Linked DNA regions of Homo sapiens. The protein of the gene in region 1 purifies or fractionates together with the protein of each later gene. This does not show direct contact. Each region holds a gene or a part of one and is shown in the gene's direction. Other genes may lie near its edges.

What was found.
Region 2: the proteins of MINDY2 (region 1) and SLC2A8 purify together in Homo sapiens (affinity purification with mass spectrometry; 3 studies listed by BioGRID and IntAct, with this or other methods). This does not show direct contact.
Region 3: the proteins of MINDY2 (region 1) and PPM1B purify together in Homo sapiens (affinity purification with mass spectrometry; 3 studies listed by BioGRID and IntAct, with this or other methods). This does not show direct contact.
Region 4: the proteins of MINDY2 (region 1) and SCCPDH purify together in Homo sapiens (affinity purification with mass spectrometry; 3 studies listed by BioGRID and IntAct, with this or other methods). This does not show direct contact.

What each region holds. Positions count from the first base shown.
Region 1 is NC_000015.10:58,851,286-58,858,335, forward strand, and holds part of MINDY2 (ubiquitin carboxyl-terminal hydrolase MINDY-2), read left to right. Parts: intron 1-485; coding exon 486-680; intron 681-3,196; coding exon 3,197-3,325; 3' UTR 3,326-7,050. UniProt on the Homo sapiens protein: Hydrolase that can remove 'Lys-48'-linked conjugated ubiquitin from proteins. Binds to polyubiquitin chains of different linkage types, including 'Lys-6', 'Lys-11', 'Lys-29', 'Lys-33', 'Lys-48' and 'Lys-63'.
Region 2 is NC_000009.12:127,393,018-127,400,168, forward strand, and holds the start of SLC2A8 (solute carrier family 2, facilitated glucose transporter member 8), read left to right. Parts: upstream 1-4,151; 5' UTR 4,152-4,213; coding exon 4,214-4,269; intron 4,270-4,358; coding exon 4,359-4,521; coding exon of another isoform or gene 4,522-4,887; coding exon 4,888-5,094; intron 5,095-5,154; exon of another isoform or gene 5,155-5,296; coding exon of another isoform or gene 5,297-5,317; intron 5,318-6,889; coding exon 6,890-6,989; intron 6,990-7,151. Other genes in the region: GARNL3 (GTPase-activating Rap/Ran-GAP domain-like protein 3), read left to right, coding at 66-237.
Region 3 is NC_000002.12:44,227,835-44,231,982, forward strand, and holds the end of PPM1B (protein phosphatase 1B), read left to right. Parts: intron 1-2,158; coding exon of another isoform or gene 2,159-2,167; exon of another isoform or gene 2,168-2,578; coding exon 2,579-2,884; 3' UTR 2,885-3,638; downstream 3,639-4,148.
Region 4 is NC_000001.11:246,762,359-246,768,637, forward strand, and holds the end of SCCPDH (saccharopine dehydrogenase-like oxidoreductase), read left to right. Parts: intron 1-1,887; coding exon 1,888-1,999; intron 2,000-3,699; coding exon 3,700-3,781; intron 3,782-4,836; coding exon 4,837-4,942; 3' UTR 4,943-5,779; downstream 5,780-6,279.

The sequences.
Region 1 (7,050 bases):
TAGAACAATGACAGAATCACTGAAATAAGTTCATAGCTCCCCAAGGGAAATACTTAGGAAGATAACTGTCATTTTAATGTTTAAAATAAAATGTTTTTTATTTTATTTTAATTATTTTGTTATTTTATATTGTTTTCTTTTTCTTTTTTGTTTTTATTTTATTCATATTTATAGACAGGGTCTCTCTCTGTCACCCATGCTGGGGTGCAGTGAGGAGATCATAACTCACTGTAACCTCAAACTCCTGGGCTGAAGCAATCCTCCTGCCTCAGCCTCCCAAGTAGCTAGGACTATAGGTGCACACCACCACACCTGGCTGGTTTTTAAACTTTTTTTGTAGAGACAGGGTCTTGCTATATTGCCCAGGCCTGGTGTATTTTTTAATAGCCATTCTTACAGCTTTATAGATATAACGTTTGTATTTGCAGTCATTCATTCTTGGGTAAAATCTCATAGCTAATGATGGTTATAATTTAATTTATTAGGATTATCTTATGGCATTATCTCTACAACAAGAACAGCAGAGCCAAGAGATCAATTGGGAACAAATCCCGGAAGGAATCAGTGATTTGGAACTAGCAAAGAAACTCCAAGAGGAAGAGGACAGACGGGCTTCTCAATACTATCAGGAACAGGAACAAGCAGCAGCTGCTGCTGCTGCTGCTTCTACACAGGCTCAGGTAAAAACTAGTGTTTTGAGTCTTAAATGTGATGATCATGGCTGGGTGTAGTGGCTCACACCTGTATTCCCAGCCCTTTGGGAGGCTGAGGCAGGCAGATTGCTTGAGCCCAGGAGTTCGAGACCAGCCTGGCCAACATGGCAAAACCCTATCTCTATTAAAAATACAAAATTAGCCGGGCGTGGTGGTGGTGAACACTTGTAATCCCAGCTACTGGGAGGCTGAGGCAGGAGAATTGCTTGAACCTGGGAGGCAGAGGTTGCAGCGAGCTGAGATTGTGCCACTACACTCCAGTCAGGATGATAGAGCAAGACTCCTTCTCAAAAAAAAAAAAAAAAAAGATGATCACTTTAGCAGTAAATTTCGCTTGAGATAAAAAATTTTAAATTAGGTGTTAACTCTTCAATTTTGTTAGGATTTTAGCACCTATGGGTTTTATGACGTTGTCCTAAGCTTGTATCTCGTTTAGTAAAATGTTTTCTCCTGAGGTTCTGATTTTCAAATTTATTTTTAAAATTCGTAATAGCTGCAAAGAAAATAAGCCAATTTGGACGAAGTCCTTTCAATCAACTAGAGGGCAGTATGAGGTACTACTAGAAAAAATAGACTTTGGAGCCAGATAAATGTGGATTTGCATTTCCTGCTCCTGTCTCTCCTTCTAGTTGCAACCTCTTGGATGACGTCCTCTACCTCTCTTAGCCTCATTTTCCCTATCTGTAAAATAGAAGAACTCTTAAGTTTGTTGTGAAGAACAAATAATATTAGCACTTACCCCAATTTTTAACATGTACTAGGCATTCAACAAAGGTTGACATCTCCCTACTTTTCACTTTCTGTAGTTAAACGGTTTAAAGCACTGAAAATTTAATGGTGGGATTCTACATGTTAAATCTCATTTCATTAAGTTAAAAATATTCCCCTTTTTTATGTTTATACCATGCCAGACTGCTGTTCCTGTTTTTTTTTTTTTTTTTTTTTTTTTTTTTTTTTTTTTTTTTTTTTTTTAAGACAGAGTCTCACTCTGTTGCCCAGGCTGGAGTGCAGTGGCGCAGTCTCGCTCATTGCCAACCTCTGCTTCCTGGGTTCAAGCAATTCTCCTGCCTCAGCCTCCCAAGTAGCTGGGATTACAGGTGTGTGCCACCATGCCCAACTAATTTTTGTATTTTTAGTAGAGATGAGGTTTTACCATATTGGCCAGGCTGGTGTCAAACTCCTGACCTCAAGTGATTCACCCACCTCGGCCTCCCAAAGTGCTGGGATTACAGGTGTGAGGCACCACGCCTGGCCTAAACTGTTCATTTTGATTCAGATACATAAGAAATTCTGATTTGGGCATACAAGAAAGCAAGATGCCCTTTTAAGTCTCATAAAACTAAATATAGAAGTCCCCATTAAAATAAGTATAAAATTTCTATTTCTAGCTCAAATATTGACTACTCCAAGCTTAATAGTTAAATCCTACCATGTTATGTGTAGGTTTTCACTCAAAAAAGGTGTCTTATTTCACTAAATACACTTATTCCAAACTCCCAATTCTCAGGGGTTCTTTTCTCCTTTTAAAATCTGTTTATTATGGCTGGTGCGGTGGCTCACACGTATAATCCCAGCACTTTGGGAGGCCAAGACAGGTGGATCTCGAGGCCAGGAGTTCGAGACCAGCCTGGCCAATATGATGAAACCCTGTCACTACTAAAAATATAAAAAATTAGCTGGGTGTGGTGGCGTGCACCTGTAGTCCCAGCTACTCGGGAGACTTGAGGCAGGAGAATCGCTTGAACCTGGGAGGCAGAGGTTGCAGTGAACCGAGATTGTGCCACTGCACTCCAGCCTAACAGAGTGAGACTCCATCTCAATAAAAAAAAAAAAAAAAAAAAAAAGTCTGTTTATTATGGAATTTAATGAGGTTTTGAAGAACTATTATAGTTTATCAAAAGGTGTCACTTTCCTTAACATTTTCTAAACTTTTAACAAATGTGTCTTCAATTTGACTTTAGGCAATATAATCTTACGTTATTTACTGTTTGAAATACCGACTTTGGGAGGCCAAGGTGGGCGGATCACAAAGTCAGGAGTGTGAGACCAGCCTGGCCAACATAGTGAAACCCCGTCTCTACTAAAAATACAAAAAGTTAGCCAGGCGTGGTGGCAGGTGCCTGTAATCCTAGCTACTTGGGAGGCTGAGGCAGCAGAATCTCTTGAACCCAGGAAGTGGAGGTTGCAGTGAGACAAGATTGCACCATTGCACTCCAGCCTGGGCGACGGTGCAAGACTCTGTCTCAAAAAAAAAAAAAGGAAAAGAAATTTTATTTATTCAGAATAATGAATACATTAATTATATCCAGAATGGTAGCGGTAATGGCTCAGATACCATGTAATATAACAAATCTGTATGCCAATAGCTAGCTTCTTTTTCCATCAGTGATTCCTTCCACTGTTACAGTTTTCCTTTCTAGATAACCATGAGTAAGTCCCTCAGAATAGTTAGAGTAATTTCTTGCTGTATATTTTTCTTAAAGCAGGGCCAGCCAGCACAAGCCTCTCCATCAAGTGGAAGACAATCTGGGAATAGTGAACGTAAACGGAAGGAACCACGAGAAAAAGATAAAGAAAAAGAAAAGGAAAAAAATAGCTGTGTTATTTTGTAACAAGTGTTGGCTTCTGTTGGAACCACCTATATGTCTTGAGAAACAAAACCACAGGAGGAAAGGAAGAAAAACCGATCAATACCGTCTGTGCCTGATTTCCTAATGGATTTTGTTCGTTTTTTCAGGGGAACGGTTGTTACTTAGTTACAATCAGACTTTTTCAAGTCACACAATACACTCTTTATGAGCTGGAGTTTCATGTTACAAGTTGGAAATGCTGTGTGTTGACATTCATGAAAAATACTGCACTTGTAGCCAGATTAGCAAATCACAGCAAATTTTGTGTCATAGTGACATTCATAACTCATATCAGTTAGTAAGCTATTATATCTTCTGTTCTAACAATGAATGGAGGTAATTGATTTAGTCTGATTCCTTCCTGAAATCTAAATATTAGCACAATAGTTTCTGAAATTTTACAATGTTAAATTATGATCTAATTCATGAGAAACCACGGGTTTAACATAGGGATTCAAAAAAACAAAAACAAAAGAATAGGAATAAATAACCCTTAATTGTATATTGGACTAGTTCAGCCCTTAAACAGCTTTACCTTTATTTAGGAATGTACATTTTAGGTATTATCTTGATCATGGAGCTTAGTTTTAATTTAGATAGCAAAAATAAAGATTTGTATTTCTTTTCCAATAGCAAAAAGTTACATAACACTAATACTTATAACCTATCAATATCAGATATTAATGACTTTGTAGTGTTGTAAAATTTTGAGGAATTTTGGAGTCTTTATCATAGGTAACCTGGACCACAGTTACTATTTATTGACAATGTGATTGAGTGTATGGAGGAAAGCACAGTGGATGCTAGGCTTTGTAAATATGGGGATGTAGAAAAGCAGATAGTTCAGTGTCTACCTTTTTCTAGAACTACCTTGAACCTTAAATTTTAAGTCATGTTCATTGCTAGAAAATTAAATGTACTTATTAAAACCAATGAAAAAGCACATTTCTGAAATGAAGTTAGAGATAATCTCTGTGTCTTATAAAAAGACATTAATAAAAATCTGAAAGGGCCGGGCGCAGTGGCTCACGCCTGTAATCCCAACATTTTGGGAGGCCAAGGTGGGCGGATCATCTGAGGCCAGGAGTTCGAGACCAGCCTGGCCAGCATGGTGAAACCCTGTCTCTACTAAAAATACAAAAAATCAGCCTGGCATGGTGGTGCGTGCCTGTAGTCCCAGCTACTCAGGGCTGAGGCAGGAGAATTGCTTGAACCCGGCAGGCAGAGGTTGCAGTGAGCCGAGATCGCCCTGCTGCACTCCAGCCTGGGTGACAGAGGGAGACTCCGTCTCAAAAAAAAAAAAGTCTGAGAGTAGCTAAGAATTTATGTAAAAGCAATCAGAGTTTTTAATTTATGGGAACCAAATAAAACTATAACCTCATAGTGTTTATAAGAACTCAGAAATAATATTTATTTAACTTTATTATGAGGCCACACATATTTTCCTGTGTTTCTATATATAGTTTGGAAAACTATCCTTAATAGTCTGTTTTATATGCCTTATATTTAAAAGTTTGTTTTAGTTATTTTGAAAGACTATTGCTGCTGCAAATAGTTGTGTGCTTTACATTCTAAGCTTCAGTACATTTATTTAAGAGCATCATAATCTGACCTGAGCATCCACTTGGAGAGTGTTTTTTTTGTGTGTGGTCTGGGGTGACAAAAGACCACAAAAATGTGTGGTCTGGATTTTTTCAACTATGTCATTAACTTTATGATCCAAGACCAGTTATAGGATGAATCTGTATGTAAAAATAGAGTCTTATTTATGGAAGGAATTATTCTAAGGGAAAAATCCAGGGTCAAGCTGTATCTTTTATGTCCTTTATATTGCATGTCTATTTCTGTTACACAATTTGTTATTTCTTCAAATTTCCTATGGTAGCATGATAAATCATCAAAGAACCTGTTTGGGATATAAAACTCTGATAGAAAATATTTAATGAGTATCTTGATTATAACCTAGAATATGTATACGTTAGTAAAATAACCAGATATACTACAGAACTCTCTATTGGCTCAAACAGGTTGACCTCAATCCAAGTTTACTCTTGATATCACTCTGTTGGCTGAAGGAGGTAACTCAAACCTCAGGGTTTGTTTTTCCCGGGACAGATAGTAGTGATAGTGCATTATATTTGAATAAGAAAAACAAACCAGTATACCTTGAGAAATTTTAAAAAGCATAGTTGAGGCATATTTTTTCATAATTATATACTTATCTGTTTATTGCCCATGGAAAATATATGTGTAGAAGTATTTCTTCTGTTATTTGTTACTATCTTCTTAATTTGTTCCAAAGAAAATGCTGCCATACTGCATTCCCTCTGGAAGGAAACAAAACAAAACAAAACTCACTCAAAACCAGCAGTGCTGCTATCAGATAAGTAGATGTCAATGTATACTTACAAGGAAAAACTAAAAAATGTAATGTGTTAATTCAGCCTTTTTCTATGTAATATTTCCAAGTCAGACTTTCTTACATTCCTGGAATTTACTTTGATATACCAAGAATAATAATGATAAAATGTTTGCTTTGATTACTGTGGGGGGAAAGATGAAATGTTCAATTGTATTAAAACAAACAAGCTTTTCAGAGATACTGGTTTCCTGCCCTTGAAGGGTATAAAGAATTTAGATCATGCCTGTAATCCCAGTACTTTGGGAGGCCGAGGCAGGTGGATCACCTGAGATCAGGAGTTCGAGACCAGCCTGGCCAACATGGCAAAACCCTGTCTCTACTAAAAATACAATAATTAGCCAGGCATGGTGGCGGGCACCTGTCATCCCAGCTACTTGGGAGGCTGAGGCAGGAGAATCGCTTGAACCCAGGAGGCAGTGATTGCAGTGAGCTGAGATAGCACCACTGCATGCAAGCCTGGGCAATAGAGCGAGACTCCGTCTCAAAAAAAAAAAAAAAAAAAAAATTAGAGCTATTGTGTCTTTATTTTCTTAAATTTTGCCCAAGGTAACGTTATATATCCCACCACTTCATTGCTGGTTTGGGTACATAGGATTTTGAAAGTGGTATATTAAAGTCTTTCCTTCCAAGTATTTTGTAATACTTGAAAATTCTTAGATGTATACTGCTAACAAAAGTTAGAACTTAAACATTTTTGTTTTTATCATTTATAGCCTAGATTAGGGACATATTTGCATCAACCAAATCATCATTAGATTTGAAAATAGGCAGATGAATGAACAAATATGGTCATTGCACTTTCCTTTTACTTTCAGAGTCTAAGTATATTCCTTAAGGTTAGTAACCAGTCTTTATTAAAAATATAAAATTTTTCTTCATGTCTAATCCCATTGCATCCACAATGCTGTGATTTATAGTACATGATCAACACTTAAAAGTACTTTACATATGTGTGTTTCTGAAGCAAGTTTTCATGACCTCTGTTAGATTCTCAAAAGAATTCAGAACTTCAATTTAAGAATCACCATTTTAAGAATACATGTGTACATATACACATTAAGCAGTATAAAGCAGCTAAAATTGGCATTGGTTTTACACTGGTGCAGTGTGCTTAGGTAAAGTAACTTCTTCCATGTTTCAAGGTCAGGTTCAGAGTTGAATGAAGTGTAGATTTAAATTTAGGATTAGGCTTTGGAATATATCTTGTTTTTATTGTCTCACATTTCTGATATTGACTACTTATCCCATATTCTGTTTCAAATTCTTTATCATATTTCAAGTTCTT
Region 2 (7,151 bases), on another chromosome or scaffold:
GAAAAAAATAGGCCCAGTTCTGTGGTACTCCCAAAGATCCTCTTACAGTGACTTTTCTCTTCTAGGATCCCATCAGGCTCCTTGGAAAGTGCTTCTACTTCCGAAGCCAACCCTGAGGGGCACTCAGCCAGCTCTGACCAGGACCCTGTGGCAGACAGAGAGGGCAGCCCGGTCTCCGGCAGCAGCCCCTTCCAGCTCACGGCTTTCTCCGATGAAGACATTATAGACTTGAAGTAACAGAGTTGAATCTCATTTGCCATCTTTAGTTTTCTTATGGAGGTTTATACTCTTTAAACAGTTCTGATGTAATTTCTCAACAAAATGTGGCTTTTAGCCTGTCAGTGATCTATTGGACCAAACCTTCTGCACACTCGGCCAGTTCCCTCTCCAATGTCCGGTGCCATCTTTCCTGACCTTTGTTTCTTTCTGTTCAGGAACCATCAGTCCCCTTGTAATAAAGGTGGTAGATTTCATTGAGGTTTTAGATTGAAACTTTGAATAAATCAAAAATACTCATTCTTATTTACTGCAACCTTCTCATATTTTATATACTTAGATGGAAAATTATTTTTTCATTACAGTTTTGATTTATGTCACATAATGTGTTTCTTTTATAAAGAAAAGTCGTTGCTTTTTAACTTTATTATAAGTAAGTTTTTTTTCTGCACCTTTGGCCCCGGTTGCTGTTTCAGTTCACCGTGATTGGAACCAGCTGCATTCCTGCCTGTAGACTTTTGAGAAAAGTTGAATGGTTAGATCTTAGAAGCTCCTCCTTCTTCCCTGCATCTCATGAAAAATATTAAGGCATAGGAGCTTGTCAAAAGTCTTCAGATTATTTTGTGTGGTTTTATTGTTACTCTGCAATAATGTAACCAGAGAACAGCTACTCCTTGTGGTTAAAAGTATTCTCATTGTAATCCCAGTGCTTTGGAAGGCCAAGGTGGAAGGATCCCTTGTGCCCAGGAGTTTAAGGCTGCAGTGAGCTAAGATTGCACCACTGTTCTCCAGTCTGGGCAACAGAGGGAGACCCTGTCTCAAAAAAAAAAAAAAAAAAAAGAAAAGAAAAGAAAAAAAAAAGAAAGCATTTTCAAACTCCTCCTTCTTTTTGAGTCCCCCTCACTCTTTCACATAAATGATATGAAGATAATAATTTGGTTTATCTGCCTTTCCTGGCTCCCTCTCCAGTGTGAACAGAAAGAAATGTGGACTGGGCCAAGTGCAAAAGAAATAGTGAAATCTCAGCCACTAGCCAAGGGGAGATCCAGTTTCACTAGCATTGTTTGCAAATATTTTAATCTGTGTGAAGAAGGTATTTTACCTTTGGCTTTAGTCTAGCCAATTCAATTTTATTCTGTCTCTTCCTACTTATATTATTACATTATTCATCAAAGGAAACTTCCTGTTACCCCGTTAAAGCAGCTCAGAAGAGTTCTTCTGCAGGCTTTTTTTTTTTTTTTTTTTTAGACAGAGTCTTACTCTATTGCCCAGGCTGGAGTGCAGTGGCACGATCTCGGCTCTCTGCAACCTCCACCTCCCAGGTTCAAGCCATTCTGCTGCCTCAGCCTCCTAAGTAGCTGGGATTACAGGCACGCATCACCACACCCAGCTAATTTTTGTATTTTAGTAGAGATGGGGTTTCACCATGTTGGCCAGGCTGGTCTCGAACTCCTGACCTCGTGATCCGCCCACCTTGGCCTCCCAAAATGCTGGGATTATAGGTGTGAGCCACTATGCCCGGCCAGCAGGCCTTCTTTGTGAGTGTGGAGAACTGAGTTTGACAGGACCTTGGTCTGACAGATTTTATAGAAGTTTGGGTCGTACCTCCTAGTGGGCCTTGCACACTGTGGGGAAAGTTCCCCTCTCTGTCTTTTGTACAAACAGATCAGCATGATAGCCCAAGCTGAAGGTTGCTTGGTTCATCTTTGGCAGAAGGCAAGAGTCAAGAGTAGTAAAGACAGTGCTTTTTAGGTATACCCAGATGGGGCTGTTTATAACCAAATGTGTCTGCTCATATTCTTTGCAGCAGTTAGCATGCCCATTCTTCCTTTGTGTGTTTTATGCCCTTTTCCTATATAGGGGGAAAAAAACACTGTGTCTCAACCCCACCAACAGTTTAATGAATTATGTTTTATTATTCTTGCTTTTCAAATAAGGAAATAGGCTTAGGAAGGGGCAATGGTTTGAACCTGCAAGTTCTTTGACTCCAGAGCCCTTGCTTTCCCCACGTCTGCCATGCAGAGCCAGGCTCAGTGCCTTGTGTCAGCTGGATCTGGCTGGTGTTTTTCATGTTAAACTAATTTGTAAGCTTTATGAGCTTGTATCTGTGTTTTTCCTTTTTTTCTGGAAGTTTCTTGCTTCACAGTGTAGCATAAAAAAAACCCAAGGACTATTTTAGAGCATTCTTCCAAATCAGCAGCATTAGAGCCACCCACAATTTGACAAGAGTCACAGGTCTGAGGAGTGATGTAGCAAGGGCAAGAGGTGGACCCTACTGATCAGGCTGATGGTGCTTTGCCTATGAAAAGGGGGCAGGAGGCTGTTCTGGCAACATTATTTGTCTACAAAGGCCAAGAAGTGAGTTCTGCACACTCACGGGAAGGGAAGCCATCGGCCACAGGGTAGGAGCACCCTGCCTACATAATCCTTTCTGTGTACCCGACTGGCTGAGTCACACAGAAAATCATCTAACTGCAGTGTCTGCCTATGGAGTTGGAGGCATTGATCCACTCTGCACACACCAAGTGCCTCCTCTCCAGAGGAGGTCATGTCCATTGGGGGAAGGACGGAAGTAAACAAGGGATCACAAAGCAGTGATAAATGCTGTGATAAGAATACACATCTAGTGCTCGAGTTATCAAGCATTAGATGCTGTGGGAGTACAGAAGGGCAGTTGCCTAAGTCTTTAAGGATAGGCTTGTGGTCAGGACTGAAAAATGTTGGTTGCTAGAACCATCAAGTGACTGCAACATATCAGATGACTGTCTTCATCATACCGGTTAGCCTTTGAGTGCTTCACATGTCTTATATACATTACCTTGCTTCACAACTCTCCTGGAAGATAATGGTCATCCCCACTTAGAGATGAGGAAACACAAGGCCCAGAGAGGGATTACAAGCCAAGCCTCTTACTCCCATGCCCTGGCTCTTTCCAGAATTACACCAGCATTCCACCACAGCTGCCTGCACCCAGAGTGTTGGGTATGAATCGGGTACAACTGGTGAGATCCAACAGTGCCTCATCATTCGACTTGGGTGCACACGGGAGAAGGTGGCATTAAAATCCACAGGGAACTCAAAATATGGAGGCAGGTAGATGAAGATTCAAGAGTCAGGACTCCCTGTGAAGTGAGTGACACTTAAGAGGGGGAGTGGAGCCCAGATCTGTCACACATACGGCGTGGGGGACCCCACCTACCACTGGTCCTCAGCACCTGGAGACCCGAGCCTTCAGCAATCTGGGAAGCATGAAAGTGGGTTTCGGTGCACAGGGCCACGCCTCCGCCGCCAGCAGCCCAGCGGGAGCGTCTGACCAGTCTCGCCCTCCGAGAGGAGAGAGAGGCGGCCCAGGACGGTCTGCTTAGAGGCTCTCTCCCCTGCAGAGCTGGGCCCAGGCATAGGTCAGACGCCTCCAATACAGTCCCCAGGGCAGCGATTAAAGCGGAGCAGGAACTGCAGACCCGACCGGGCAGGACAGGTGCAGCTTCTCGGAGTTGGGGGCGGGAAGTCTCGGGCTGAGGCCCACGTGCTTCGCCTTCGCCCCGCCTCTACCCTCATTGGTTGAAGCCAGATTGAGAGGAGGTGCCAGAAAAAAAACTCCTCCCTCCAACCTCATTGGCCAGCTCAGTTCTGAGGCAGCTCTCTGGCCCCGTCTATGGGCTCGCACTACACTCCAATTGGGTGGTTGTTCTCCCAGACGGAAACTCCGCCCCACCTGTACCTTGGACCGCTCCGCCCTAGGGGCGGTTCCAGCGCGCTTCGCTAATCGGTTCTATGCTCCCATTGGTCTGCTTTAATGTGAAGGGCGGGTCCTAGCTGATTCGCTAGCCCCGCCTTGCGTTCCTATTGGCTGCTCCTGCTCTGCGGTTCCGATCCCGCCCAGCACCGTCCCCCACCCCCCGCCGCCCATTGGCTGCGAGAGGCCGGTGCGGGCCGCACTCGCAGGGCCCGTGGCGGTTCAGGCGCCAGAGCTGGCCGATCGGCGTTGGCCGCCGACATGACGCCCGAGGACCCAGAGGAAACCCAGCCGCTTCTGGGGCCTCCTGGCGGCAGGTGAGCTCCGGGGAACCCGGGCCCGGATGCGGCCTCGCCCTCCCGCCCCTCCGCGTCCGCTCCGCTCACCCTCGGCCCTGTCCCCCCAGCGCGCCCCGCGGCCGCCGCGTCTTCCTCGCCGCCTTCGCCGCTGCCCTGGGCCCACTCAGCTTCGGCTTCGCGCTCGGCTACAGCTCCCCGGCCATCCCTAGCCTGCAGCGCGCCGCGCCCCCGGCCCCGCGCCTGGACGACGCCGCCGCCTCCTGGTTCGGGGTGAGGCCCCGGGCTCGCTCCTCCCGCCCTGGGACCCCACGCCCTCCTCTCGGGACGGGCATCGGGACCCTCCGCCCCCCACCCTTCCCCTCGGGACAGGCATCGGGCCCCGCCGCCACCACCTTTCCCCACGAGACAGGCATTGGGCCTCTCTGCCCCCCATCCCTTCCCTCGGGACGGGCATCGAGCCCCTCAGCCCCCACCCCTCCCCTCGGGACGAGCACCGGGCCCCTCAGCCCCCTACCCCTCCCCTCGGGACGGGCGCGGGGCCCCGGCTCTTTTACCTCTGAGCCCGCGGGGAGTGGGTGGAGGGGGAGGATGGGCTGCGGCTTCGGCGCCCCCTCCTCAGCAGCCGCCCGCCTCCAGGCTGTCGTGACCCTGGGTGCCGCGGCGGGGGGAGTGCTGGGCGGCTGGCTGGTGGACCGCGCCGGGCGCAAGCTGAGCCTCTTGCTGTGCTCCGTGCCCTTCGTGGCCGGCTTTGCCGTCATCACCGCGGCCCAGGACGTGTGGATGCTGCTGGGGGGCCGCCTCCTCACCGGCCTGGCCTGCGGTGTTGCCTCCCTAGTGGCCCCGGTGAGTGTCCCGTCTCTCGAGTGTCCTGTCTCGCGGCCTGAGACCGAGGGGGAGTGGGACAAACCGCTCCCCAGGCCTGGGGGCGCGGCTCCCCCTGGCGGGACCTTCTGGGTGCCAGGCTTGAAGTCCCTGCGTTATCTCGCGGTCCCTCCCGTCGACCCTGGGAAGGATCCTACTGTTCTCTCCATTTTACACTGAGGTCATGACATGCAGTCTCGGAAAGGTGAAGTCCTTTGCCCAGGCGAGGTCCACAGCTAGTCAGAGGGGAAGCAGTTGCAGGAACCCAGGGTTGTCCCACTTAGCCGTGCCCCTCTTTTGCTCTGCAAACCTGCGGATGATCCACAGGAGCCCACTCCCTACATTTTGGTTTTCATCCCTGGCTTCGGGTCAATGACTGCAATTAGCAGGAAGTTCCTGTCCTGATTTCTCTTGGGGCAAAGGCTGCTGGCCTCTGTGTTCCCCTTCCCTTCTCACAGGCCAGCCCCTCTGGCTTCCCCATCTTCCCCCTTTCCCCCTCCTGACCCAGGCTGCCCACTTGGGAGCCCCGAACATCTGGGTCAAATCCTGGTTCTGCCACTAACCTGAGCAGAGTGCCTCCCTGGGCCTCAGTTTCCTTCTCTGGAAAACAGGGATTATGGCATTAGCCCCTGAGGTAGTGGTCAGGATTCAGTGGGACTTTGGATAGACAGCCCCTGGCATGGCTTGTAGAGGACTGGATCCTGACAGCTTGGTGACCCATGAACTGCCCCCAGCCATGGGCTTGGACAATATCTCCCCCAAGTGAGGTTGAAAGCAGCCACTCAGGCCCCTCCCTGGGTGCTCATTTCACCAACGTTTGCTAACCGGCAGCAGCAGCTGGACCAGAAGAGGGTGGGGAAGAAGCTGGGCCTTTTATGTCTTTGGTTTTTTTAACTGGGCAGAAACACACCTGTGTTAGGGGCCTAAGCTATGGAATAACCTTAGATGCATGGGTGAGGGCCTGGTGGCCTGTGGGCCCAGGAGGGAGCTAGTGGCAGCCACTGGTAGTGACCGAGGCAGAGAGTTCGTGCTTCTAGTCCAAGGCCACCACTCAAAGCGTGGGCCCTGGGCTAGGATCCTGGGTGGGCGTCACGTGGAGCTGGTTAACAAGGTGGAATCTTTCGCCTGTCCAGACCTACTGCATCGGAATCTATGATTTATCCAGGGTGTCTGTGCACATTAAACGAAGGCTTGAGAAGCTCTGTGCCCACCGCCTCTCGTCATCATATGCAGCCCTCTCCGTTACCCTTAATCCCCTTTAAACACCTGCCACAGATCTTTCAGTGGTGGGGACCTGGGGATGGCTCTGCTCACCTAGGCAGGTTCCACTAAGGGGCTTCAGGGCCTGCCGTAACCCCCTGCAAGGACTTTCCTCAGCTCTGAATGGCTGAGACCTTTCCATTTTAAGAACTCTTGGAGCCTGAGTAAAGCCTCATCTTTTTTTTTTTTTTTTTAATTTTTATTTAAAAATTTCGGAGTTTCGCTCTTGTTGCCCAGGCTGGAGTGCAATGGTGGGATCTTGGCTCACCGCAACCTCCACCTCCAGGGTTCAAGTGATTCTCCTCCCTCAACCTCCTGAGTAGCTGGGATTACAGATGTGTGCCACTAGGCCCAGCTAATTTTGTATTTTTAGTAGAGATGGGGTTTCTCCCTGTTGGTCAGGCCAGTCTCAAACTCCCAACCTCTGGTGATCTGCCCGCCTCGGCCTCCCAGAGTGCTGGGATTGCAGGCATGAGCCACTGCGCCCAGCCATAAATCCTCATCTGATTGCTGGCAGGTCTACATCTCCGAAATCGCCTACCCAGCAGTCCGGGGGTTGCTCGGCTCCTGTGTGCAGCTAATGGTCGTCGTCGGCATCCTCCTGGCCTACCTGGCAGGTATAGTTGTCATTATCTCTTGCTTCCTGTTTGTGGTCATGTGGCCATTTTACAGATGTGTAAACAGAGGTTCAGTGAGGTCAAGGGACTTGTCTGAGGTCACATAGCCAGTGCCCAACATGCCAGGCTCGCCTTCCTGGGACCTTGGGATAGGTGAGTCTT
Region 3 (4,148 bases), on another chromosome or scaffold:
TTTGCCATGAGGATACTTCCCCGCCCCATCCCCACCACCACCCCGTCTGAGGCAGGAAAACAAGCACTTTTTTTTTCTTTTTCTTTTCTTTTTTTTTTTTTTTTTGAGATAGAGTCTCACTTTGTCACCCAGGCTGGAGTGCAGTGGTGCGATCTCGGGTCACTGCAACCTCCGCCCTCCGAGTTCAAGCGATTCTCCTGCCTCAGCCTCCCGGAGTAGCTGGGATTGCAGGCACTTGCCACTGCGTGCTGCTAATTTTTTGTATTTTTAGTAGAGATAGGGTTTCACCATCTTGGCCAGGCTGGTCTTGAATTCCTGACCTCGTGATCCACCCGCCTCAGCCTAACAAGCCCTTTTTTTTTTTTTTTTTTTTAAGAGGGTCTCACTCTGTCGTTCAGACTGGTGTTCATTGGTATGGTCATGGGTCACTGAAGCCTCAACCTCCTCGACTTAGCTCAACCTCTCGCCTCAGTTCCCCAAGTAGTTGGGACTATGGGCGTGTTCCTTTTAAACATTTTTTGTAGAGATAGGGTCTCATTGTGTTTCCCAGGCTGGCCTAGAACTCCTGACCTCAAGGAATCCTCCTACCCGTCTCCCAAAGTGGTGAAATTGCATACACGAGTCACTGCTCCTGGCCAATGAGGGCAACTTTTTAAAAAATAACATTCATCTGCTCTCATTTTTCTAATAAAACATTGCCATTTATTATATGGCTTTATTAGTGTTATCTTTGTTGCAAAAGTATATGTAATAGTCTCTAAAGATGGTTAAGAGTTTGTGTCACATCAACTGTATCAATAACCTATTTTGTATTTTATTTTCCCAATATTTTAAGATGAAAACTTCCAAATGTATTTAAAAAGGGGATATGATATGTTGGAACAGCTGTATATTGTCTCTCTAGATTCAACAACTGTTAACATTTTGCCATAGTTGCTTTATTTTTCTTTTTATATCTACTGTTTTTTTTCTTTCTTTGACTGAACCCTTTGAGAGAAAATTGCAGACATCATATTTTACCTGTAAACATTTAAGCATGCAGCTCTTAAGAATGAAGATATTTTTCAGCCAGGCACGGTAGCTCACACCTGTAATCCCAGCACTTTGGGAGGCCGATGCAGGCAGATCACCTGAGGTTGGGAGTTCGAGACCAGCCTGACCAACATGGAGAAACCCTGTCTCTACTAAAAATACAAAATTAGCCGGGCATGGTGTCACATGCCTGTAATCCCAGCTACTCGGGAGGCTGAGGCAGGAGAATCGCTTAAATCCTCGAGGTGGAGGTTGTGGTGAGCCGAGAACATGCCATTGCCCTCCAGCCTGGGCAACAAGAGTGAAACTCCATCCCAAAAAAAAAAAAAGAACGAAGACATTTTTCTGTATAACCATAATACCATTATTATACCTAAGAAAATTCATTTTTTTAAATTTATTTTTAATTTTTGTGGGTACACTGTAGGTGTATAAAAAAATAAATTGTATAATATTGAATATCAAGTTTAAATTTCCCTAGTTGTCACTAGAGTGACTATTGTAATTGTTATTTTGAATCCCAGTCTAATCAAGTTTATCAATCAAGCACATTAAACAAGTCTTTAATCAGTCAAGCCCCTCACCTGTTTTTTTCCCCTTGAAACTGACTTTGAAGAATCTGAGCCAGTTTTTTACAATACGTCCTGCATTCTGAATTCATATGATTGTTTTCTCATGTGTGCTCTAACTTGATCCTCTATTCCCTTTTTTCCTGTAAACTGGGAATTAGCATTATTAGATTCATTCTAAACATTTTTTGGCACGAATACAGGACATGACTGTACTTTATAATGCATCATATCAAGAGGCACATACTGTAAAGATATCTTTATTTTAGTCTGTCGGCTTAACTGTGATCAGCTTGGATGATTAGAGCTTGTTCTGTACAGTATTAAGTAGTTACTATTGTAGAAACCTGTAGATTTTCCAAAATTCACTAAAATATGAAAGGATTGAGTAGTTTATTATTCATACTGAGAATACTTAATTTATTTTTATCTAGAGATGTTTTTATCAAAATAAGAGCAAAAAGTAAATACAATTTTTATCCGTAAAAACTCTAAAATCTTTCAAAAATCTGTTTAAATCTATATAGTTTTATGTTTTGTATTTCCTACTTATTTAGCAGAAATGATGAAGAAACTGTTCTGATGGCCTGCTTTTCTGTCCTTTTCCTACTGCTTTAAACATTGATTTTCTTTTGTACTAAATCATATAGCCAAATATTGTTTAAGTAAGTCAGTTTTAGGAAATGCTTGTGTTGCTGTTGAATTATAAAAGCTGAGTAAATTTCAGATTAAACTTTAAATGACTGTGAAATAAGACATAAACTAGTTAATGGTAATTTGCTTAAAATGACTTGAGATTATTATTGGAAGTTTTTATTAATTGATACAGGTAAGAATTGATATTTAATAAAATGTTCTCATGCTTAGACTATATTACTTTTCGGTAGAGAAATTAGTATTTTGCTGTAATGTGTTATGAAATACATGTGATATCCTAGTTTGTCTACTGACACTGGGGTCTTGAATCTTAAAAAAAGGCCTCCGATGAAGCAGAGGAAAGTGGATCACAGGGAAAATTGGTGGAAGCTCTCAGGCAAATGAGAATTAATCATAGGGGAAACTACCGACAACTTCTGGAGGAGATGCTGACTAGTTACAGGCTAGCTAAAGTAGAGGGAGAAGAAAGCCCTGCTGAACCAGCTGCCACAGCTACTTCTTCGAACAGTGATGCTGGAAACCCAGTGACAATGCAGGAAAGCCATACTGAATCAGAAAGTGGTCTTGCTGAATTAGACAGCTCTAATGAAGATGCAGGGACAAAGATGAGTGGTGAAAAAATATGACTTTCCTTTTTGGTAATATTTTTGTGATCTTTGATGGTTTTTAACCTAGGAAGTGTAATGTATGCATTTATATAACTGTTTTGTTATTTGAATCTTGGAAAACTAGTTTTATTATATTCAGATAGCCTTGTTTTTTAAAAAGGCCTTTGCATACACCTTTATGAGATAGTGTAAAATTGACTATTTATAGTACTATGGATTTAATGAAATTATATGTCATTTCACATTGTATGCCAGAAATTAGGCTACCAATTATGAATTAAAGTCAGTAGTTAAATTAATACTAGATAGAATTAGAAATTTTGATTAGAGAGATTATGCTATATTATGGAAAAACTTGTTAATGTAGAATTATACTGCTTCATATTATTTTACCTATTAGTACACTCATAGTTAGCTTTGTAATAAATTTATGTTTTCTTTAATAATTTTAGTTCTTCAAAGAATGGCTGATGCTGGCCTGTAATTTTTCTTTCAAGGATGATAATTTGTGTGTTGTTTGATTTGTTTATATTTTACATCTCTGTAGTTTTATTTTTAGAAGTTGTGAGATATTGGATGTGTGGCTATTTTTCCTTTCTCTGTATTCTTTATGAAACATAACTTTTGAAAAACCTATGTATTATTCATACAGCTTTGGTTTGTATATTCTGTATAGCCTAACTACACACATCAAAATGTATGTCAACCAAGTGTTTAGAATGAAATTATAAGTGTTTAAGTCCAAATAAAGCATGTGATGTGGAATAATCTATGCATGTTGTACTTATTTTTGAATTAATTTTTTAAAAACAACCAAGTTTGGTATATTGGAAGAATACCCATTAGAAATTCATTTGTATTTATATAACATTTAGAACACTTTTGGCTTACCTTTTTTCATTAACAAAAAGGAAAAGTTTAATATTAAAATATATGTGTTGCATACTTAAATCTATTCTTTTTCTTATCCATCTTTTGTGGTACAAAATATTAATCTTTGGACATTATGGGCACACATTAGACATGTGAGAAAATTGCCACAGTGAGCATTTTAAAGATTGCAGAATTGTCCATTTTGTTACAAATTTTTGTTAGTTATTAAGAAATTGAACAATTATGGGCTATTTTTAAAATAGTGGCAGATGAGAGTTTTTGTTTAAAGGGATTTTTAAATTATAGATTTGTCACATAGGGAAAAATATTTTTTAAAAATTATTTTATAACTGTAGAACATTAACTTTTCGTCTTTACGTTTATATTTATATCATGTGTCTAAAGTTGC
Region 4 (6,279 bases), on another chromosome or scaffold:
GGTTGGTAGTGCAGGCTTCCATCTCTTGCTTGAACTTTTCGTAGCATTCCTACGGTTTCTTTCTAATCTGTCTTCCCACTGCTGTCCAAGAGATCTTTCTAAGACACAAAATCTGACCTTGTCATTGCCTTCTTTATAAAATGTTCCTGGCCCACTGCTTTGGCAGTGATTCTTAACTGAGATTTCATATATCAGAATCATGGCCGGGCGCAGTGGCTCACACCTGTAATCCCAGCACTTTGGGAGGCTGAGGGAGGTGGATCACTTAAGGTCAGGAGTTCAAGACCAGCCTGGCCAACAGGTGAAACTTCATCTCTACTAAAAATACAGAAATTAGCTGGACATGGTGGTGCACGCCTGTAGTCCCAGCTACTCAGGAGGCTGAGGCAGGAGAATTGCTTGAACTCAGGAGGTGGAGCTTGCAGTGAGCTGAGATCACACCACTGCACTCCAGCCTGGGCAACACAGCGAGATTCCTTCTCCAAAAAAAAAAAAAAAAAAAAAGAATCACCTAGGAAGCTTTTTTCACTGACACATGCCCTCATCTTGCTTCTGGACGTTCTGATTCAGTAGGTCTGGAGTGGGGCCTGAAAGCATAGAGCAGTGGTTCCCAACTTTGGAAGAGAACCCAAAACAGATGACCAGAGACTCTGGTTCGGTTGGTCTGGAATGCAGCCTGGGCACTGGGGCTCTCTAAATCTGCCCAGTGATGCTAATGTGCTGCCAGGGTTGAGAATCACCACTGCGGAGGAAGGAAGAAGGTTCCAGATTTGAGTGGTTTTGGTACCCACCCCTGGAGCACAAATGGCCGAAAGTCCATCTTCAGAGATGTGAGGCCATCCTAGACCCTTCATGATCTAGTTCTGGATAGCACATAGGATTCATTTTTCATCCAACTTTGATTAATTGATAGTAGCCACCCAGAGACTATGCTGGGTCGGACAATGTGTGTAGCCTGAGAGAGGATTAGAACCCATTAGTGTGGGCGCCATAGCAGGAGATGGGACAGGTGTGGCATGTGTGTCTGACCTTGTCTGTACCTCTTGAATTGTATGTTCTGGAAAGGCTATGCTACTGCATCCCTTCTTCCCTTTAAATAATGGGTTCTCCTTTCTGGAATCCATCTACTTTTGGGGTTTTAAAACAACCATTAAAATGTGTTTGTGTGTGTGTATATATACAGTTCAGAACCATTGCCCTCTGCCCTGGTAGATTAATAACACCCTCCTCTGAGTTATGCCTGTATGTTTTAGTTCATGTCACATTGTTATTTAATCTGTTTATCTCTCTCTCCCCCCCTTTCCTCCTACTAAACTGTAAGCTCCAGCAAAGGCAGTAATTATGTCTCAGGGCCTCAATGGTATCTGACCCTTAGTTGATACTTCATAAAAATGTGTTGATCATGATTGAATTCTTTATCACCTCATTCCTAAATTTAGTGATTGTGAAAGATGCTAGGATAAGTCCTCAAGAATTTAGTTTTTTGAGTCGAATTTTTACATCTTTAAGTGGAACAATTATATACCTATACTCCAGGCCCATATTTCCATTACTTGCTGGCTATTTTTGTCTTGTCGCCTCAAATAGGTATCTAAAACCAGATTTCTATATTCTGCCCCCCGATAAAAACTATCTCCAGATCATCTTTATTTCCTCCCTATTTCTTACCACTCCCCTTCCCCCCAACATCACGCCAGTCTTCAAAACTGACAGCTTCAAAGAATTAGTTTTCGCTCCCTGCTTAAATGATGACGGGATATTCTGGCAGATAAAATAATGTTTTCATCTATTGACAATGTCTCACTTGAAATAGAATAGTCGGTTTTACTATGTTCCAGGAGGAAATGACGTATTTATGAAATGCGCCCTTTGCCTTCTCCTTCACAGATTGATGCTGCCTCATTCACGCTGACATTCTTTGGTCAAGGATACAGCCAAGGCACTGGTACAGATAAGAACAAACCAAATATCAAAATTTGTACTCAGGTGAAAGGACCAGGTATTTCACATATCACTTAAGAATGCTTGGGAATTTTATACTCTTAAGCTATAAAGTACAATGCCATTACAATATATTCTTTTTAAAGCTTAATTGTTTTAGAAATACATTTGTACAAATTAAGTAACTTAAAATTATTCTGTCAAAGGAAGATTGAAATTATTGATATAATCCAATTTTATTAGTGCATCCCTCCCTCTGGCTGTTTTTGGAGTATGATTCAGTAATTCAGAATGGCAAATTTTAATTAGTATTAATAGGAAAAGGGATTGGTTGATATTCACCTGTTTGAATCTCATATGCAAGTAGTGTAATTATAATGTCAGTCAAATCTGTGCTCTAGGATTTCTTTAGAGTCTCTGAACACCCTGACATTGTTTGTAAAATATGTATGCACACGTGCACTTTTCAAGGGAAGGGAATGGCTTCTGATAGGTTGTTAAAAGAATGTTGCCCAAAACGTTCAAGAACTTTTGCTGTACATTTTACAGAACTATGCAGAGACAGACAGGTCCACTTGTGAACTGTGGTATAATTACTGTCAGAGACAGACAGGTCCACTTGTGAACTGTGGTATAATTACTGTCAGAGACAGACAGGTCCACTTGTGAACTGTAGTATAATTACTGTCAGAGACAGACAGGTCCACTTGTGAACTGTGGTATAATTACTGTCAGAGACAGACAGGTCCACTTGTGAACTGTGGTATAATTACTGTCAGAGACAGACAGGTCCACTTGTGAACTGTGGTATAATTACTGTCAGAGACAGACAGGTCCACTTGTGAACTGTGGTATAATTACTGTCAGAGACAGACAGGTCCACTTGTGAACTGTGGTATAATTACTGTCAGAGACAGACAGGTCCACTTGTGAACTGTAGTATAATTACTGTCAGCCCTTTTAGGTCACAGGCTATAATTTTTTATTGAGACGGGGTCTCACTATGTTGCCTAGGCTGGGCTCAAGCAGTCCTCCTGCCTCAGCCTTCTAAAGGGTTGGGATTACAGGCATGAATTGCCATGCCTGGCCCACGGGGGATTTTAATCAAGCCAGATGATAGTATGTTTCCATCTTGCCCTTTTCTGAAATTCCCACCTGACTTTTTAAGGTAAGTTGACTGTATTTTCATTATTTGACAGGATTATAAATGCTAATGTTCCGTTTGTTTATAAACATTTTTTTAACTTATGTTTAGTCGTTATTCTTTAAGAAAAAATTGAGAGGATTTTTTTGTTGTTTTTAAGTGAAGTGTGTGAATACAGATAGGGATCGGCTCAGTGTACAATAGAGAAACAAAAAACCTAGGATCATTGGCTTCAATGATTGTCAAGAAGCAGTGCAGTGCAGTGGGTGGAGTGTGGACTCTGGAACCAGCTGCCTGGGTGTGATTTTGGCTCAGTCACTACCTGTTAGTTTGGACAAGTCACTTAACCTCTCTCTCTATGGGATAAAAGTAATATTGACCTTAAATAATTGTTATGAAAATTAAATGAGTTTAATAGACCTAAAGCACTTAGTACAGTTCCTAACACTTAATAAATACTTTCGATATGTTATTTTTGTTAAGTGACCAGAGTATCTATTGAAAAAAATCTGCACACCTAGAGTAAGATATAAAATCTACCATTTGATTTTTGATGTTGTTGAATGGGTACTTCATGATTCCTTTCTTTTTCCCTGATCAACTGTTTTCTGCAGAGGCTGGCTATGTGGCTACCCCCATAGCTATGGTTCAGGCAGCCATGACTCTTCTAAGTGATGCTTCTCATCTGCCTAAGGCGTAAGTTTGGTTTTCTTCCAATTAGAAGATCTTTTTTATCTATGTTATATTTTAGCTTATTTTGATTTGATTTTCAGGCTTTGGGTTTGCATGTAAGCATTTATAGTTCAGTTCCTTTGCTTCAAAAATATAGGTAAATTAAAACTGTGAGAAGGACAGCTTCTTACCAGCCCAGAGTTGGTCTCAGAGGAACAACTGTGGAGGTAAATGAGAGGAGACAGAAAAGTTGGAGAGCCATGAGTTAACTTCAGCCCTTTATAAAGATACCTCAAGTCCAGAGTCAGCCACTCAAAAAAGTCCCTGTTGTTAATAGTATTACTAGGAGCTTCCAATCAGTGCCTAACTATACCCAGCTGGCAGTAGTAACCCTGACTGACACCAGCATAAATGGAACCATGGGATCCTGGCTAGATGATTTTCAGACGTACTGTCTTACTGGAGCATTTAGCTGTCCCCCTAAAACTAGGCCAGCTTTTCAAATGAGCAGAGGCCTGCTGCTGAGAAGTAAACCAGGCATGACCTAAAACAGGATTAATAAAAGTAAAATTTGTATATAGTAAAATCTAATTAAATTTTTTCAAATACCTAGGTCCCCCTTGAAAATATTTAGCATTTATGAATGTTAGCTATTATATTTTTAAAAACTTCTTTTTCATCCAATTTAAGTTCTGTTTACACTTTCATAATAATTGATTATCTAAATTTATTCCATTCGGGTCTTTCTTTAATCCCCCTAAGTCTGAGGACTGTCCTTGTAAACAGCAGCGGTTCTTCGGGGTGATGGCGCACAGTGCACCCACCAAACACATGCATAGAATGGAAACAGTATCTCCAGGAACAGAGCCAGTCTAGATAGGGTTGGCTGTGGTGCAAGTTTCTCCTGACTAATAGCTACTTGCTCATTTGGCTGATTTTAGGAAGGAATCAAAGGTAGCCGTGATTACCATGAAGACTTGGGTTTTCAGGGGTTCTGTAGCAATTTGATAGTGAGGCCTGTGAAATAGGAGACTGGAGAGGAGCTGAGTGCACTGTTTTCTCTTGTTATTGTTTTATAGGGGCGGGGTCTTCACACCTGGAGCAGCTTTTTCCAAAACAAAGTTGATTGACAGACTCAACAAACACGGTATTGAGTTTAGTGTTATTAGCAGCTCTGAAGTCTAAACACTGGAAGAATTAACTGAAGTCATAACGTGCGTGAATTAACAGCTTCTCTATTTGATATTTGAAATTCTTCTGTAAGCCTGTCTGAGTGTATGTGGAAACGATTGTCAAATCTAAAATATCTATATATTAAAAAGTAGGAAATTGTCCTAGCTTACCCTAAATTTCAAATCTGAGTTGATTTTGTGATTTTATTGCTTATAACAGAGAACTCATATTTGACATATTTTTTTCATTGATGTGTTCCTGGTAGATTTTCACGAATGAGCTGGCAGGTCTAATGGGGGAGGCGGCGTCCCAGTCTGTGTTGCAGCAGCATTCTCATCGGGGGTGCGCACACCATCGTTACTGTCGGGCAGTAACTGCCGCTTGCCTTGCCGCAGTAGGAGGGAAATCTCACCTTCCTTCCACATACTGTCTTGAGCCTTTGCTAAATTAAACTGCACTTTTTGCTATTTTTGCCTAGTTTTTCGCCAATCTACACTGATTTTGGACTGTTACCTAAGTTGAAAAATAAAAGGTTGTCAATCGAATGGTGGTTTAATGTTTGGACCTGCCGATGTATTTGTATAGTGGTAGAAACATGCTGCTTAAGTGGCCTAACCTGTTTCTTGCCAATAAGTAGGCTTATCATTTTATCTTTACGTAATTCTATATCTGTGACTAGGTTTTTAAGGATACAGCTTATAAGTTGCTATCAATTTTCACTACCTAAGCAGAATTTTTCTCTAATTTACTTTTTGTATTTTAACTAGGTTTTACATGGAAGCCCTAAAATAAGGCAAAAGACTTTTTCTTTTGTAATAAGCATATAATAAACACGTATATACATAGCAATCATGTTGTTCATTACCTAAACAAGACAGCCACTCCTTTATGGAATTTCTACCAAAAAGTGAGGAACATAAAATATTTAGGAATATTATTTGTGTTGGGAGACCCTTCTGCTCTGCCTGTAAGAAGAAGAGGGGGCGGTATCTAACTCAAAGAGGCCTGTAAGGAGAAGTGGGGGAGGGTATCTAACTCAAAGAGGCCTGTAAGAAGAAGCGGGGGGTATCTAACTCGAAGAGGGTGTTCTTGGTGGTAGTATTCCCCACCCTAACTCTGCTTCCTCTGTCCTGGCCTGGTCATCACAAGATACAGATCCTCAGCTGTGCCCTAACTTGTGGGACCTTAGAAAAGGTTTTATCGGCTGTGAAATTAGAAAGCAGTACAGGAGCAATAGAGCCCACGACTAGCTGCACATCTGAATCACGAAACAGTAACAGGTTCCTCCGTGCCTGCAGCAACTTGCGTTCAGGAGGGCGGGAGGTCGAAGCCTCTGTGTTTTTGATATG